Linked DNA regions of Homo sapiens. The protein of the gene in region 1 interacts with the protein of each later gene in a pairwise test. Each region holds a gene or a part of one and is shown in the gene's direction. Other genes may lie near its edges.

Region 1 (3,519 bases):
GTTTTTGAGTTTTCTGTTTGTTTCCCCTGTGCCCAGAATAGTGTCTAGCACACAGGGGCGCAGTATGTGCTCTTTTAATGACTTAATTAAAGGAAACCCAGTTACCAGAAAGAGAGAACTCACCTCGCTTGTGGAGAGTAGGGCTCCCAGAGAGGAGTGAGGCAGGAGATGGCTGTGTTTAATTTAGAGACTTTTCGTGACATTTCACTTTAAAACTATCCACATGTATTATATTGGTTAAATTACTTTTGTAAGAAAATGTGGCACATATACACCATGGAATACTATGCAGCCATAAAAAATGATGAGTTCGTGTCCTTTGTAGGGACATGGATGAAATTGGAAATCATCATTCTCAGTAAACTATCGCAAGAACAAAAAACCAAACACTGCATATTCTCACTCATAGGTGGGAATTGAATAATGAGAACACATGGACACAGGAAGGGGAACATCACACTCTGGGGACTGTTGTGGGGTGGGGGGAGGGGGGAGGGATAGCAATGGGAGATATACCTAATGCTAGATGACGAGTTAGCGGTTGCAGCACACCAGCATGGCACATGTATACATACATATGTAACCTGCACATTGTGCACAGGTACCCTAAAACTTAAAGTATAATAATAATAAATAAATAAAAGGAAAAAAAAAAGAAAATTTAACACCTCAAAGTAGTATTCTTAAATGTGTATATTTGTATACTGGAGTAATTTGTATAAGAAACTATTTGTCAAGACAGTGTTGTAAAATAAATTTGAAAGTAAAATTTTAAGAAGTAGATGTGATACAGCTTATCTTGAAGAGAACTCGTAGTTCCCTCTTCCTCTAGAAGCTAGGTGCCTGCTGAGCAAGAATAGAAAGGCGCTGCCTCTTAATAGATGTGAACAAGCGAGGCCTTTCCCCCTGCCTTAGGAGGCTGTGGGGTGAAGAGCAAACAGTCCACTCTGCACCTCTACCTGCCACCAGTCCTTAAAGCGTGTGCCTCTTGCTAACAGTCTCAAGGCAGAGAGGAAAAGCTTCAAGCTACATGAAGACCTTGAAGCTTCCTGACTAAGAGCTAAAAAGTACATTTAAAAGTAGCTCTTCTTTGCCAAGCAGCAAAGTAATAATTAGTAATTTTGTTTGTTTGTTTGTTGCAAGCTGCACGGGTTTCTTTGTTCTCCAAGGATAGTTCATTCCTCTGGTGTCTTTTTTTTTCTGACATCAAGTCTATGGGGTTTTTCTTCACACCAGCCAGTCGGATTCTCTGACACCAGCTGGGTGTCCAACACTTCAATTCACTTTTGACACTACCCAGAGTTAAAGGGGACCCTCCAGGCTAAGGAGACCTAGACTGCCACCCCCGCTTCAGACACCAGTCACAACTGGAGTGCCCAGGCTTCCTGCACTTCTTGGCCAAATACAGATCTGGCAGTTCCCACACCCTCCATCCCTCACATCCCCATCAGGTTGGAGAATTTGTTAGAATGATTCACACAACTCAGGAAAAACATTTTTCCTGGCATTTACTGGTTTGTTAGATAGGTGTCAATTCAGGCACAGCCTGGTGGAGGAGATGCTTAGGAGACGAGGTATGGGGATGGGCCACCTCCCAGCACCTCCATGCCACCACCAGCCCAGGAGCTCTCTGACCCCCATCCTTTTGGTTTTTTTGTGGAGGTTTTATTACAAAGGCACGATTGATTAAAACATTATCCATTGATGATTGACTCAATCTCCAGCTCCTCTTTCCTCCCCAGAGGGCTGAGGTGAGGCTATAAGTTCCAGCACTCTCCTCACTCGGTGAGGGCTCCCACGGCCACAGCCCCGATCCCAAGGCTCTCTAGCCTGCTACTCTTCCCACAGTTATCTCCTTGGCTTACAAAAGACACCTTTATCACTAAGGAAATCACAGGGGTTTGGGCCTCTGTGCCAGGAACCTGGGACGAAGACCAAATATATATTTTTTAATTTAATTAGGCCACAGTTAAGTTCTGGGAATGTCTAGCTAGCAGTGGTCCAGGCCCTGTGCTAGGCACTGGGATCCTCTGGTGAGTGAGACAGCAGAGCCCTGCCCCATGGAGGGGAGGCAGGCAGCCAACACAGAGACAGAGACAGAAAGAGCATCCCACCAAGTGGGATGGTGCCACCCAGGAGACAGCACGCTGAGATAGAGGGGGTCCACTGGATGGGGATGCTTGGGGAACGTTGCTGAGGAGATAGAGTTAATGAGACCCAAGGGACAAGGAAAGCCAGCGGTGTGACGAGCCCAGACGGGAGTGGCAGGGGCTGGGAGCAGGGAAGAGAATGGGGCCAAAGGGACAGGTACAGTGACGGAGATGTCCTGTCCTGGGCCTTGATGAGTTGGGCTGCTCTGAAGAATGGACTGTGGGCCACACATGGCAGCAGGGACAGCAGCGTGGGCAGACACAGGATTTGTGTAGTGTAGGAGACTGCACTAGGCTGGCGGAGTGAATGTGGAGGTGCACAGGAATTGAGGATGAATGTGGAGCTGATTTGCTTTAGAAACAGGGTGCGTGGTGATGCCTCTTCCTAGGCCAGGACGGGCCTGGAGGGTGGGACCAAAAAGAGTCCTGCTGTGCAGATGTTAAGTTTGACATGTTTATCAGGCAGTCTCATGGAGATATGGAGGCAGCACTTGGATCTGAGCTGGAGACAAAATTTGAGTCGAATGTTAAGAGAGCCCAGGACCCAGCTCTGGGGAATCGCAATCCCAGCAGGGCAGATTCAGAAGAATGACCAGAGCCAGAGAAGTGGCTGGTGAGCGGGAGGAAGACTAGCAGAGTGCAGGGCGCAGAGGCTGCGCGAGTGAGTGAGGACAGAAATGCCCACTCCAGCTTCGGTTGCAGAGAGGGTGGGGACCTTGACAGGCTTTTGGGGAGTAGCAGAGATGGACACTAGGTTGGCGGTGAAGAAGAGGAAGCTGCAGGTAAAGACAGCTCTTTCAGAAAGTTGGATGTGGGGCCACGCGTGGTGGCTCACGCCTGTAATCCCAGCACTTTGGGAGGCCGAGGCGGGTGGATCATCCGAGGTCAAGAGTTCGAGACCAGCCTGGCTAACATGGGGAAACCCCGTCTGTACTAAAAATACAAAAATTAGCCAGGCGTGGTGGCGGGTGCAGCTACTCAGGAGGCTGAGGCAGGAGAATTGCTTGAACCTGGGAGGCAGAGGTTGCAGAGAGCTGAGATCGCGCCATTGCACTCTAGCCTGGGTAACGAGCGAAACTCTGTCTCAAAAAAGACAGTTGGATGTGGAGAAGAGCAGACAGTGGGACAGTAACTGAAAAGATGGTGCAGCATATTTCTGTTTTGTGTTTTAAGATGGGCGGTACCAGAGCCAATTTATTTTTATTTTGCTAATAGGAAAAATCCTGAACTCCTGGCTTTTTTTTTTTTTTCTTTCTGTTGCCTGGGCTGGAGTGCAGTGGCATGATCGCTCACCGTCACCTCAAATTCCTGGGATCAAACAGTCCTTCTGTCTCAGCCTCCTGAGTAGCTGGGATTACAGGTGTGTACT
Region 2 (3,519 bases), on another chromosome or scaffold:
CGCCCGGCCTTTTTTTTTTTTTTTTTTTTGAGATGGAGTTTTGCTCTTGTCACCCAGGCTAGAGTGCAATGGCGCGATCTTGGCTCACCGCAACCTCTGCCTCCTGGGTTCAAGTGATTCTCCTCCCTCAGCCTCCTGAATAGCTGGGATTACAGGCATGTGCCACCACGCCTGGCTAATTTTGTATTTTTAGTAGAGACAGGGTTTCTCCATGTTAGTCAGGCTGGTCTTGAACTCCTGACCTCAGGTGATTTGCCTGCCTCAGCCTCCCAAAGTGCTGGGATTACAGGCGTGAGCCACCGCATCCGGCCTCATGTCACTTTTATGCTCTGCTTGTCACGAAGTAACCTTTAAATGGTGCTTTGGAAAATTTTATTTTACTTAAAGTTCTGGGTCATTGTGATGACTTAGGTGCAGTACTGCTTTATTCTAAGATCATGCAAGAGAGATGACAAACATGGAAAAGACTGGTCCTTAAAGAAGATCATTGCAAGTATTAAGGCTACTTGTTGGCTTGGAAACTCTTCAGATAGAGATGTGACTGAGGCTGGACTCAGTTTTGTTTGATTGTTGTTTTGTTTTTTTTTAAATTATTGAATACCTTCTATGAGCCAGGGACTGTTCTAGACACTAGATACAACAGTGAACAAAACACAAATCCTTACACTCCTGGGTTTACATTGCTGCCCCCAGCATATGCAGGTAGGATGGGTTTACATTTTAAAATCAGTTGTTTGAGTCGGGTCTTTTTCATTCTTTCTTTCTTTTTTTCTTTTTTTTGTCCATTACCTAGGCTGGAGTGCAGTGGCATAATCATAGCTCACAGAAGCCTCAAGCTCCTGGGCTCAAGCAGTCCTGAGCTCAAGCCGACTTAGCCTCCCATGTAGCTGAGACCATTGGTGTGCACCACCATACCTGGCTAATTTTGTAGAGACAGGGTCTCACTTTGTTGCACAGCCTGGTTGGTTGGGTCTTCTGTCACAAGGACATGAGTTTTGTGTGAATGTCTTTTCCTTCTTTTTTGTTCAGGGAGAGGAGAAAGGACACATGTCAATTTTCTTGTCACAAAGTAGCCTTTAAATGGCCTCCCTTCCAATAGCCCACTCGCTGGTGGATGAATCATGCCCTAGGATTAACATTTTGGCCAATGGTTTTGGCATTCTTTTGGATTTGGCCCAGTCTTATTTTCAATGCAGAGTCATGACTATAGATACCAGAAGATTAGAGAATAAAATTCATTCATACCTTTCTTGGCTGTTGGTTGTTACCAATAAATATTTCAGCAAAGGTTCAGACCCCAGAAAAAAACATCAAGATAGGATATAACAAATGTGTCTTTGCTCATGTATCTAGCAGGAGAAAAAGTTACTTTTTAAAAAATTTAATGCAGCCGGGTGTGGTGGCTCATGCCTGTAATCCCAGCACTTTGGGTGTCCAAGGCAGGTGGATCACCTGAGGTCAGGAGTTTGAGACCAGCCGGGCCAACATGGAGAAACCCTGTCTCTACTAAAAATACAACAAGATTAGCCGGGCATGGTGGTGCATCCCTGTAATCCCAGCTACTTTCAGGAGGCTGAGGCAAACCCAGGAGGTGGTGGTTGCAGTGAGCCGAGATTGCACCATTGCACTCCAGCCTGGGCAACAAGAGTGAAACTCTGTCTCAAAAAAAAAAAAATTTAATGCATTTTAATACCTTTGGTCTATGTACCCAGTTTCTTTTTTTATATTGTTTATAATAATGTAGTATGACTTTGTACCAGTTCTCAAGGACTAAGTTATTAAAGTTTATAATAAACCTTTAAAATTTATATTTCTGGCATATGATGTTAATTGGAGAGAGAAAAAAAAAAAAAAACACGTACCAGTGGTAATATCTTGGTGTGGTGGGATTACTGGGTAACTTTTATTTTATATTTTGTATCTTTTCCTAGTCCCAGCAAACTGACAGTAATGACCACATTACCTATATTATCAGAAGAAGCAGTAATTTATTTAAAATCTTTATTCTGTATGGCATGGGCATCAGATGGTATTAAATAAACTTTCTTAGATTTTACTATAAAGTGTAATTTCTTAATATTCACAGAATAGATATAATGTATAATTGAAGGAGCACTGGACCAGGAGTCAGAAGACCTGTATGTGGGTTTCCATTTTGCCAATTATTCGCTGTGTGACCTTAGGCAAATGCTTTTCTTTGGGACCAGCATCTCCGCTTATGAAATAAGCAAGTTGCCAGGTGTCGTGGTGCACACCTGTAATCCCACCTACTCAGGAGGCTGAGGCAAGAGGGTCACTTGAGCCCAGGAGTTGGAGACTGCAGTGAGTTATGATTGTGCCTTTGAATAGTCACTGCACTCCATCCTGGGCAACCTAGGGAGACCCCATCTCAAAAAGCCTAAAACAACAACAAGAAATAAGTGAGTTGTGCTCTGGATTTCATGAGGAACATCCTGGCTCTAAAATTAATGGTAATTTTCTTAGAATATATGTTACCCCTAAATTGACCGAATGGTCAAGAATGTTGGCACAAAATGATCCACTCATCTGAGAAGAATCTGTATGTTGAGCTGAAAAAGTAGTTTTATTCTACCTTCAACATCTTTTATTTGACAACTTATATTCGTTAAATTGACTTTGAAAATATACAGTACTCAATCTAAAGTAAAAATCTGAGTATTTAGGCTTTCAAATCTGAGATAGCTTGCCACATTGAGCTAATACATGAGATTTGTATTCCTGGGAAGCTACTGAATATATCTGTGCCAAGTTGCAGCATTACCATCCATCAGGACTTCCTCGCTCTTGTTTACTGTATGTGGTTTAATTCTGTGTGTGATATTTCTCTGTTGATATTAATATAGGTCTCTCGGCTGCTGGGGGCATTCCACAACCCAAAACAGGTGACCAGAGGTTTTACTGGTGGTGTGAGTATAATTATGTCTTTTATTTTTTCCTTTTAGAAGTTTCTCAAGAAAGATGCTCTAACATATTTATTATATAGCATTTTATCTCCATTCATTTAGAATTTGGGAAAATTGGCCATATTTATAATGTATGTTGAAATTACTGGCTGACATGCACAAATCTGTTAGGTTACTTGCGCATTTGAAAGAATTATCTTACAGCTGGCTATGTAAGTTTGTCACATTAATATCTTGAGGGAGCCTTGTTAAAAATAGAAAGTACCCTTGAGCCTGTTATTTTATTTCACAATCTCATTTTGGTGAGACAGCTTTTTTCAAAACTAGTACAAGTTGAGAGAAAATTGTTGAGAAGCTTCAAAACCTGCTTTGCATTTTTATTTTATGGGCTTCCCTAAACCCAGTAGATTGAGTGCCAATTAGGAATGCCTCGAACATCTATAAGCCTTGTAGGCTTATACTTGCCTTATATAGGCTTTGTAGACTATCACAGTAGTAGATCATCTATTGTTCATTAAATCTGCTGCTTTTAGAATTCCCAGCATCAGAATTCTGTGCTTTAAAAGCTGATACCACATTTTTGGAACATTCTAAG
Region 3 (3,519 bases), on another chromosome or scaffold:
TACATTTAAGGTTAATATTGTTATGTGTGAATTTGATCCTGTCACTAGGATGTTCACTGGTTATTTTGCTCGTTAGTTGATGCAGTTTCTTCCTAGCCTCAATGGTCTTTACAATTTGGCATGTTTTTGCAGTGGCTGATACTGGTTGTTCCATTCCATGTTTAGTGCTTCCTTCAGGAGCTCTTGTAAGGCAGGCCTGGTGGTGACAAAATCTCTCAGCATTTGCTTGTTTGTAAAGGATTTTATTTCTCCTTCACTTATGAAGCTTAGTTTGGCTGGATATGAAATTCTGGGTTGAAAATTCTTTTCTTCAAGAACGTTGAATATTGACCCCCACTCTCTTCTGGCTTGTAGAGTTTCTGCTGAGAGATCAGCTGTTAGTCTGATGGGCTTCCCTTTGTGGGTAACCCGACCTTTCTCTCTGGCTGCCCTTAACATTTTTTCCTTCATTTCAACTTTGGTGAATCTGACAATTATGTGTCTTGGAGTTGCTCTTCTCGAGGAGTATCTTTGTGGCGTTCTCTGTATTTCCTGAATTTGAATGTTGTCCTCCCTTGCTAGATTGGGGAAGTTCTCCTGGATAATATCCTGCAGAGTGTTTTCCAGCTTGGTTCCATTCTCCCCGTCACTTTCAGGTACACCAATCAGACGTAGATTTGGTCTTTTCACATAGTCCCATATTTCTTGGAAGCTTTGTTCGTTTCTTTTTACTCTTTTTTCTCTTAACTTCTCTTCTCACTTCATTTCATTCATCTGATCTTCAATCACTGATAACCTTTCTTCCAGTTGATCGAATTGGCTACTGAAGCTTGTGCATTCGTCACGTAGTTCTCATGCCATGGTTTTCAGCTCCATCAGGTCATTTAAGGACTTCTCTATGCTGGTTATTCTAGTTAGCCATTTGTCTAATCTTTTTTCAAGGTTTTTAGGTTCTTTGTGATGGGTTCGAACTTCCTCTTTTAGCTTGGAGAAGTTTGATCATCTGAAGCCTTCTTCTCTCAACTCGTCAAAGTCATTCTCCGTCCAGCTTTGTTCTGTTGCTGGCAAGGAGCTATGTTCCTTTGGAGGGGGAGAGGCGCTCTGATTTTTAGAATTTTCAGCTTTTCTGCTCTGTTTTTTCCCCATCTTTGTGGTTTTATCTACCTTTGGTCTTTGGTGATGGTGATGTGCAGATGGGGTTTTGGTGTGGATGTCCTTTCTGTTTGTTAGTTTTCCTTCTAACAGTCAGGACCGCCAGCTGCAGGTCTGTTGGAGTTTGCTGGACGTCCACGCCAGACCCTGTTTGCCTGGGTATCACAGTGGAGGCTGTAGAACAGCGAATATTGCTGAACAGCAAATGTTGCTGCCTGATCATTCCTCTGGAAGCTTCATCTCAGAGGGGTACCCGGCCATGTGGGGTGTCAGTCTGCCCCTACTTGGGGGTGCCTCCCAGTTAGGCTACTCGGGGGTCAGGGACTCACTTGAGGAGGCAGTCTCTCCGTTCTCAGATCTCAAACTCTGTGCTGGGAGAACCACTGGTCTCTTCAAAGCTGTCAGACAGGGACATTGAAGTCTGCAGAGATTTCTGCTGCCTTTTGTTCGGCTATGCCATGCCCCCAGAGGTGGAGTCTACAGAGGCAGGCAGGCAGGCCTCCTTGAGCTGCAGTGGGCTCCACCTAGTTCGAGCTTCCCGGCTGCTTTATTTACCTACTGAAGCCTCAGCAATGGTGGGCTCCCCTCCCCTAGCCTCACTGCCACCTTGCAGTTCGATCTCAGACTGCTGTGCTAGCAATGAGCAAGGCTCCATGGGCGTGGGACCCTCCGAGCTAGGCACAGGATATAATCTCCTGGTGTGCCGTTTGCTAAGACCATTGGAAAAACGCAGTATTAGGGTGGGAGTGACCCAATTTTCCAGGTGCCGTCTGTCACAGCTTCCCTTGGCTAGGAAAGGGAATTCCCTGACCCCTTGCCTTCCCGGGTGAGGCCATGCCTTGCCCTGCTTCAGCTCATGCTCAGTGGGCTGCACCCACCGTCCTACACCCACTGTCCAACAAGCCCCAGTGAGATGAACCTGGTACCTCAGTTGGAAGTGCAGAAATCACCTGTCTTCTGCGTCGCTCACGCTGGGAGCTGTAGACTGGAGCTGTTCCTATTCGGCCATCTTGGAACCCAACCCAAGTCTGGCATTTTTTGGTTTTCTCTGTGTATTGACTATGATTATAGAGGATAAATGGATATTGATATTATTAAATCGTCATTTACAGAAGGCACACAACTTATATCCTTTAAACAAAGTTCTCCAACCAGTAGGGTATACTTGCTGGTAGTGCTTACAGCTGCCACCATTCTTCACTGGGGCTCAGAGTGGATGCCTGGAGGAAAAAAACAAATGAATCTTTTAGCTCCTAGTTACTGTTAGCATTTTTACCAGAAAACAATTTAAAAAATGACACAAGTAAGTCTTCACCTATCAAGGCTGAGTGTGGTGGCCTATACTTGTAATCTCTGTGCTTTGGGAGGCCAACGCAGGAGGATCTCTTGAGTCCAGGAGTTTGAGACCAGCCTGGGCAACAAAGCAAGACCCCATCTCTACAGAAAGTTAAAATTTAGCTGGGCATGCTGGCACATCCCTATAGTCCCAGCTACTTGAGAGGCTGAGTTGGGAGGATCCCTTGAGGTCATGAGTTGGAGTCTACAGTGAGCTGTGATTACAGTGTGAGTCTACACTGCACTCCAGTCTGGGTGAAAGAGATCCTGTCTCTCAAAAAACAAGTGATTCTCCTGGGAAGAGATTTGTTTAAAAAGTCTGCACCTCTATTGATGATAACTTTGAATGTAAATGGATTAAATTCTCCCACTTAAAAGATATAGATTGACTGAATGGATTAAAAACCACCATCATGACTCGACTGTATGCTGCCTACAAGAAACCTCACCTGTAAAGACAGGCCAAAAGTGAAGGTATGGAGAAAGATATTGCATACAAATGGAAGCCAAAAAAGAGCAGAAATAACTATACTTACATGAGATAAAATAGACTTTAAGTCAAAAACTGTAAAAAGAAAAGTCATTATGTAATGAAACAAGGATCAATTCATGCAAGATATAATCATATTTTTTTATTAAGAAAATTTTTTTGTAGAGATGGGGTTATGCTATGTTGCCTGGCTAGTCTCAAACTCTGGGTCTCAAAGCAGTCCTCCTGCTTTGGCCTCCTAAGGTGCTGGGATTATAGGCATGAGCCACTGTGCCAGGCCTGAGGATATTATCATTATAAATATATATGTACCCCACACTGGATGACCCAGATATAAAGCAAATATTATTAGATTTAAAGGGAGAAATAGACTCTAATACAATAGTAGTTGAGGACTTCACTCTACTCTCAGCATTGGACAGATTTTCTAGACATAAAACCAATAAATATTGGATTTAAATTGCACTTTACACCAAATGGACCTGACATTTACAGAACATTCTAATAGGTGCAGAACACTCTAATAGCTGCAGAACACACGTTCTTTTCATCAGCACATGGAA
Region 4 (3,519 bases), on another chromosome or scaffold:
CAACTTATAAAAAAGATGTTTTAAAGTTTTATTTTGTTTTACAATTTCCTGTATTTGTTTAATTCCGATATCTTTTTTAGTTAATGTAGAATTGAACTAAAAGTGATTTAATAGTTTAAAGAAGTAAATTGTCACAGTTACGGTAGGCTCAAATTTGCCTAAGCGTGAGTTTTAGATAAGCTAGTTTTTCTTGCCTTTAAGTGCAGGTAGGCCCAAGATGATTGTTTTGATTCTTTTGGTTTTGGTTTTGGTTTTTTAACGTAACCTGAAATTAATCAGAAAGCTTAAATTATTATGATTCTCTTAGCTCACTAAAATAATTCAAAGAAATAGTCTCAAAATTCAGAGTCAGAATGAAAACAAAGACATCTATTGTTTAGCAGTTAGTAGTGGTGGAAAGGAATTTATTTTTATAAAGAAGGGATGGTGTTCCATTGAGTTTTGTTTGATTTGTCCCACCCTTTCCAGGGATAGGCTGTGTGAAATTCATGTGAAAACCAGTGCAGTGAAACAAAGTTCAGAGCCAGGAAAACACACACACACACACACACACACACACACACACACACACAAACTGAAACTAATGCAATGTGATTTTTTATAGCTTCTTTGTACCCTGCTTGTTTAATTTTAAAGAGCTACAAACCCACAGGAATTATCCTGCTACAGCATCTTTCAGACTTGATTCTTTTGTTGCATCCTGTCTTGTTCTTTTTCTAAACAGAGAGTAAACTCACCAGATTTGTGTTTTAGAAGGGTACAACTGGGAGCAGCATAGAGGATGGATTGGAATTGGGAGAGGATGGAGATAGGGACATCGAGAGGGAGAGAGATGCAATCCAGAAAAGAACAGAGACACCTAGATACTTGGGTTTGGATCAAGTTCCACAATTTTCTCTCTGAACTTAAGCGAGTTACTCAGCCTGCCCAAGCCTTAGTTTGTCTGTCATATGAACTTAATACCCATCTGGCAAGGTGTGAAGATTAGTAATAATGCAAGTAAAACTTGTTCGTACCATGTTGGGCATATAATTGACACTCAAGAAGTAATAAGTATTGTTTTCTCTTTTGATTTAGCAAGATGATTTAGTCATCTTGCTTAAGATTCCCTAAAGCTGTACCCATTTTTTCACTGGTTGAGCAACAAAAATGATGGGGATTGGGAGGGAAGTGGTTAGTGTTTGGTCCAAAGGGAACCCAAGGTATATTTTTTGTGACTGTGTTAACTGTTTTTTGATCATGACAGTTGGGGATTTGATGAAGAGTTTAGTCTTCATCCATGTCCACATCCCCAGTACATGCATGTAGAGTAGCATGTTTGTCATTTGTTTTCCTCATATTACTTAGACCCTACTAGTTAAACAGCCATGAAGTATATTCAACCAACCAAATTTATTGAACACTGCCCGTAAGTAAGGAAATGAAATTACTACGAGTAAAACATAAGACCCCTGTCCACAAGTAGTTTGGGGGACTCTTTGTGCCCGTTATACTCCCAGCATTTGACATGGTGGTTTATACTCAGTAATTGCTTCTGGAATGAATGGATTGATCAATATAGCGGAGTAGAAAAGAAGCGTTGGGCTAGGTGCGGTGGCTCACGCTTGTAATCCCAGCACTTGGGGAGGCTGAGGCAGGTGGATCATTTGAGGTCAGGAGTTTGAGACCAGCTTGGTCAACATGGTGAAACTTCATCTCTACTAAAAATACAAAAATTACGGCTGGCTGCGGTGGCTCACACCTGTAATCCCAGCACTTTGGGAGGCCTAGGTGGGTGGATTACCCGAGGTCAGGAGTTTGAGACCAGCCTGGCCAACATGGCGAAACCCCGTCTGTGCTAAAAATATAAAAATTAGCCAGGCGTGGTGGCGGGCACCTGTAATTCCCAGCTACTTGGGAGCCTGAGGCAGGAAAATCGCTTGAACCTGGGAGGCGGAGGTTACAGTGAGCTGAGATCATGCCATTGCACTCCAACCTGGGCAACAAGAGTGAAACTCCATCTCAAAAACAACAATAACAAAACAAAAACAAAAATTAGCTGGGCGTGGTGGTGCATGCCTGTAATCCCAGCTATTCAGGAGGCTGAGGCAGGAGAATCGCTTGAACTCTGGAGGCAGAGGTTGCAGTGAGCCAAGATCATACCACTGCATCCAGCCTGGGTGACAAAGCAAGACTCTGTCTCAAAAAAAAAAAAAAAAAAGGAAAAAAAAAAAGTGTTGATATTATTTTACTGTGTGGTAAATGCTATAATTCTGTGATGAACTAAAAAACAAAAAGCCTGAGGAGCCCTAGAAGACAATAACACTGCAGAAGGGAAAGGGGGAGGTTGAATACTTGATTGTATCCACTAGGTTGCTGTTGGTGGAGAAAGGCTGATTGCGGAAACAAAAACACATTCCCAGCTGAGCAAGCAGCATATGAAAAGGCTTGAAAGCATTAAAATGCATGACATATTTGTGTATATAGTATGGTGTGACAGAAGAAGATAAGACTAGAATGGAAATTGGCTCCAGATTTTGAAGAACTAAATAATACAAGGATTTTGGATTTTATTGTATTTTCAGTCAGGAGCAATAAATAGTTTTGAGGAAAGGGGAGGTATGGGATATATGATCAGATCTAAGTTTTAGAAATTAACTTTGGGGGCTAAATAATCAATGACTAGGAAGAGTCTAGAATGAAACACTTGTTATAGCCAGGTTGAAAGAGAATAAAATACAAGTCAATGACATGAGGGATAGTGAAGAAGGAATATATTTGGGATATGTTTTAGAACTAAAATCCATTATTCCAAGGGAGGGTGAGAAAAGGAGGAGTCAAGATTTGTTTTGGTTTGGTGTCTTTTTTTTCTTTTTCTTTTTCTTTCTTTTTTTTTTTTTTTTTTTTTTGATGTTGTTTTGAATCTGTGGCTGTTAACCAGGATAGAGAATCTAGAAAGAAGAATCTGCTGACGCGTGGGGATTAAATGGTTTAGTTTTGCAAGGAATTGGTTTTGAGATGACCATAGGACGCATATAGTAGAGCCCTGCTGTGTATTCTCATAACACCCTTTACACACCTCTGTTATAACAAGCACTATATTATAATTACCTGTTTACTGGTCTGTTTTCTCTACCACTGTAAGCCTGTCAAAGGTAAGGAGTGTCTTTTATTCCTCACCATAATTCTATACCTGGTGTCTGGCACATATCAGACTCTTTGATACTGAATAGAAGAAAAAGAAAATATAACACAAATACCCATGTGGAATTCAAGAGAAAAGACAGTGCTAGTGTTATCAGCATACAATAGAAAGCTGTAACCATGTTAGCTAATGAGATAGCCAGTGAAAAGAAGGACGATGATGTGATTTTAAAAATAGAAGAAAAGGAACCTAAATCAGAACTAAGAAAAGATAGTGGTAGGAAATGGATGCAAAAGGATAAGAGTTTCAGAATAAGAAAATGGCCAGCATTTTCATTTACTTCAGCAGGTGGAAGTAAGAAATAATTCTTTGGGTTGTGAAATTTTGTAGTATTG
Region 5 (3,519 bases), on another chromosome or scaffold:
GGATACACACACACGCACACGCGCACACACGCACACACTGCCCAGCACCTGTTATCACCAAGCACAAGCTGTGTTTAAGTTGCTCGACCTTTACTGTGCCCTGACTCCCAGCGGGTGTGAGGCTGTGGGTGGCCGGCCAGGCTCTTGGAGTGGTGTCTTCTGTGTCAGGGCCCTGATTGACTTGCACTTGCCATTTTGGTGGTTAATTTGGCCCTTTAATTGCATTGATGAAATGAGCTTTTTGTGCCAGTTTGTAATAAAGCCATTGAATGGCCTGTGCTTTGGAAAGCCTCGGCTAGTTAGAAGAATTCCTAGGAATTCCTGATGGGAGAGTGCGAGAAAGCATGTGAGTCCACCTGGTGCAGTTATATAAAATACCAGCACGCACGCAAAAACCCTTCTTTTGGTTTTGGTTTTCCCTCTAAACTGGAAGTAGACTCAGGAGCGAGTTTTTCAATAAGAACTTAACCAGCCTCCTTGCTAGTATCTGATGACTCTTTCCCAAAACCGACTTTGAGCCTCACTCCCAAAGCCTGATGCCTGTGGCCCTCCTTGACAGGCAAGAAAGAAACATGGCTAGGCCCTTCCTTACCATCCCTCTGCTTCCCCGCCGCCTCTTCCACCCAGCCCCCAGAATACATGCAGTGAGTAGCTTTGTTGTAATCGCTGCAGATAATTTTAGTGTACAATACAGATTGTTAAAGGGAGAGAGAGGCCAGGCACGGTGGCTCACGCCTGTAATCCCAACACTTTGGGAGACCAAGGTGGTGGATCACCTGAGGTTGGGAGTTCGAGACCAGCCTGACCAACATGGTGAAACCCCGTCTCTACTAAAAATACAAAAATTAGCCAAGTATGGTGGTGGGTGCCTGCAGTCCTAGCTACCCGGAGGCTGAGGCAGGAGAATTCCTTGAACCCAGGAGGCGGAGATTGCAGTGAGCCGAGACTGCGCCATTGCACTCTATCCTGGGCAACAAGAGCAAAACTCTGTCTCAAAAAAAAATAAAAAATAAAGGGAGAGAGAGTGTGTGTATGTGTGTGTGTTTCTGCAGTGTGAAGGGAAAACTCCTGGTCTTTGGGTAAGTAGCACAGGTTTACTCTTATGATTAAATACACATTTTATCCCAGTTTTGTCAGAGTACTCGAGAGTTAGATTGATGGTCATCTTAGTTCTTTCTGTAGCCTTAATTCCAAAGGTTTAAGAGCAGCTATAAGCACAAAGTAAGGTTATTTTGTTTAATAGTAGCCATCCACTGTGGAACTAGCCAACCACTGTGGAAAGAAATACTTGCCTTAAATTTCTTTTCTTCGCCGAGCATCAGGAAGTAAGTGCTTATCTCTTAGGATCTGTTAGAGTTCTTGTTTCTAGTAAATTTTATTTCAGTTTTAAAGTTTAAAGTGGTTTGACTTCAAAAAAGGTTAAGCACTGTATGAGAGCCTGCTTACAATGCCCGTTGTTGCTATAGCCTCAGTAAATCTTCTTATAAAGCTTGGTTTGTATGGCTTTCTAAGATTTTGTTTCTGGTTGAATGAATGAAGTTATGATTCAAGTTTATTTTGTTTCAGGCCTGTTTAAAGAAGAAAACCCGTATGCTAGATTTGAAAACAACTAAAGCGCTCCAGCACATCAGTCCCGACGCTTCCTGTGAGGTGCACGCTCCGCAGCCCAGCCCAGCCGGGAGACCACGTGGCCATTGCGGTCTCCTGACCTTGGCCAGTGAACCTGCCAGCCTTCCAGGACAGGCGGCCGGAGAGCTGCCCCTGAAGGACAGTCCTCTCGTCTTGCAGACTGGTGACCTTCTATTCCCTGTTCATCTCTGTTTCTAGATTTAGTCACTTGAAATAAGAAATCTTTGGGGTTTGGGCTTTTTTATACTCTTCTCAGTTTGTGAAACGCTAACTGCACACGAAGCCGCCTGACGGCACCCAGCGCTGTGGCTGTCATTCTCCCAGGGCAGAACCCTGCGTTTCTCTCTGTCCACTAACAAGCTTCACACGCAACACAGGGAAGTCGGTTTGACTTTTGTCATGAGGAGAACTGACCAGCCCTCATCATTCCCCATAAAACCACGGACAGCGTCTGTGTGCGCATCTTGAGTCTTCACACCTGTTGACTCACACGGCTTTTGCTGATGACACGGGGCTCCAGTACACAGTCTGATAAGGACTTAACGTCCTAACCTCAATTGTATTAAATAGCATTGGGGAATAGCTAAACCTTTTTAAAAAAATTTATTGGATTTTCCTCCCTGCTTAAAAGATTTCACCAGAAAACCTTCATATAAAAATTCAGGCCCTTTTTGGACAATTTTTAAAATTTGTATCTTTACTAGAACATGAGAATCTTTTTCCCTTGGAAGCTTGAATTATAAATGTGGTGTTTGGCCTGCCTCAGCAGCACCAGTTGACTGCTCGTGTGCCAGCGGTGTGGGGAGGACGGGGCAGGACGCTGCAGCTCTCTCCAGCCCTGTTGGCATCCTCAGTGCCTGCAGGCCTCTCGCTGCCTGTTGGGCTGTCTGGGGGGTGGCCATTTAGGGATCGTGGGGACGGGGTCCACCCCAAGAAGAAAGAAAGGCCCGTCCACAGGCCCGGCTCTGGGCCACGTGCCCCGGAAGCAGGTGTGTCCAGAGTCAGCTGAGGGCTCTCCCCACACCACCCAGCAGGCGCTGGTGCTCCTTCTGCCTCATGGGACCAGTCCAGCTTCCAGCCGCTCTGGCTCGAGGGTGGTCTGACCACTTCCTTCTGAGTGGGCTTCTCTGGGAGCTCTCCAGTGGCACTGCTGGACCTGCCCACGTTTCTGTAAAATCAGGATACGTGGCTTTAGTAAGCAGACCAAGCGCTTCGTGGCAGGGAAAGCAGCGTGCGGGGAAGTCACTGAAAAGTGCTGCCTAAGGAAGTTTGGAAATAGTCCCTGTTCCAGATTGCCTTGAATTTTAAAACATTTTGCTTTGGGAAAGTAGGTCAGCAGCACCTAAGATCAAGGATGCGTTCCATTTTCACACTTCACAGTCATGAAAACTGAGAAGACTGTCTTCAGCGTGAACTAAAGTTCACAGGCAGATCACTGATCCAGAACACTTCAAGAACTCGTCAAACAGCTCGATAAGCCTTTTTGACTGTGTACATCTGTACCGGGAATAACATTCCTAGGCTGAAATTTCCACAAAGAATAGAACCTGTACCCAGTTCTTCAGGCTGATTTCCCTGACCTCTTGGGCATTTGTATTTGTAGTAAAGTATTGCAGAGATTCCTAAGTATTTTATAGCAGCCATCAAAATTGGACTTTGTATTGTTTATTCATAAAAGACACTTGGTAATAGACTTCAGTGAACTCTGTATGAATGCAGTAGTGTGTGTGCAAAATCCGCTTCCTGAGCGTAGGGTGCTGAGCTGGCGCTAGGGCTCGGTTGTGAAATACAGCGTAGTCAGCCCTTGCGCTCAGTGTAGAAACCCACGTCTGTAAGGTCGGTCTTCGTCCATCTGCTTTTTTCTGAAATACACTAAGAGCAGCCACAAAA

Evidence for each region.
Region 2: the proteins of RAB4A (region 1) and IDH3A interact in a two-hybrid assay, tested with the Homo sapiens proteins (one large-scale study listed by BioGRID and IntAct).
Region 3: the proteins of RAB4A (region 1) and SOD2 interact in a two-hybrid assay, tested with the Homo sapiens proteins (one large-scale study listed by IntAct).
Region 4: the proteins of RAB4A (region 1) and RABGAP1 interact in a two-hybrid assay, tested with the Homo sapiens proteins (one large-scale study listed by BioGRID and IntAct).
Region 5: the proteins of RAB4A (region 1) and PTTG1IP interact in a two-hybrid assay, tested with the Homo sapiens proteins (one large-scale study listed by BioGRID and IntAct).

Annotation. Positions count from the first base shown.
Region 1 is NC_000001.11:229,291,593-229,295,111, forward strand, and holds part of RAB4A (ras-related protein Rab-4A), read left to right. Parts: intron 1-3,519. UniProt on the Homo sapiens protein: The small GTPases Rab are key regulators of intracellular membrane trafficking, from the formation of transport vesicles to their fusion with membranes.
Region 2 is NC_000015.10:78,152,349-78,155,867, forward strand, and holds part of IDH3A (isocitrate dehydrogenase [NAD] subunit alpha, mitochondrial precursor), read left to right. Parts: intron 1-2,864; coding exon 2,865-2,927; intron 2,928-3,519. UniProt on the Homo sapiens protein: Catalytic subunit of the enzyme which catalyzes the decarboxylation of isocitrate (ICT) into alpha-ketoglutarate.
Region 3 is NC_000006.12:159,669,241-159,672,759, reverse strand, and holds part of SOD2 (superoxide dismutase [Mn], mitochondrial isoform A precursor), read left to right. Parts: 3' UTR 1-3,519. UniProt on the Homo sapiens protein: Destroys superoxide anion radicals which are normally produced within the cells and which are toxic to biological systems.
Region 4 is NC_000009.12:122,947,512-122,951,030, forward strand, and holds part of RABGAP1 (rab GTPase-activating protein 1), read left to right. Parts: intron 1-3,519. UniProt on the Homo sapiens protein: May act as a GTPase-activating protein of RAB6A. May play a role in microtubule nucleation by centrosome. May participate in a RAB6A-mediated pathway involved in the metaphase-anaphase transition.
Region 5 is NC_000021.9:44,849,675-44,853,193, reverse strand, and holds part of PTTG1IP (pituitary tumor-transforming gene 1 protein-interacting protein isoform 1 precursor), read left to right. Parts: intron 1-1,566; coding exon 1,567-1,613; coding exon of another isoform or gene 1,614-1,827; 3' UTR 1,828-3,519. UniProt on the Homo sapiens protein: May facilitate PTTG1 nuclear translocation.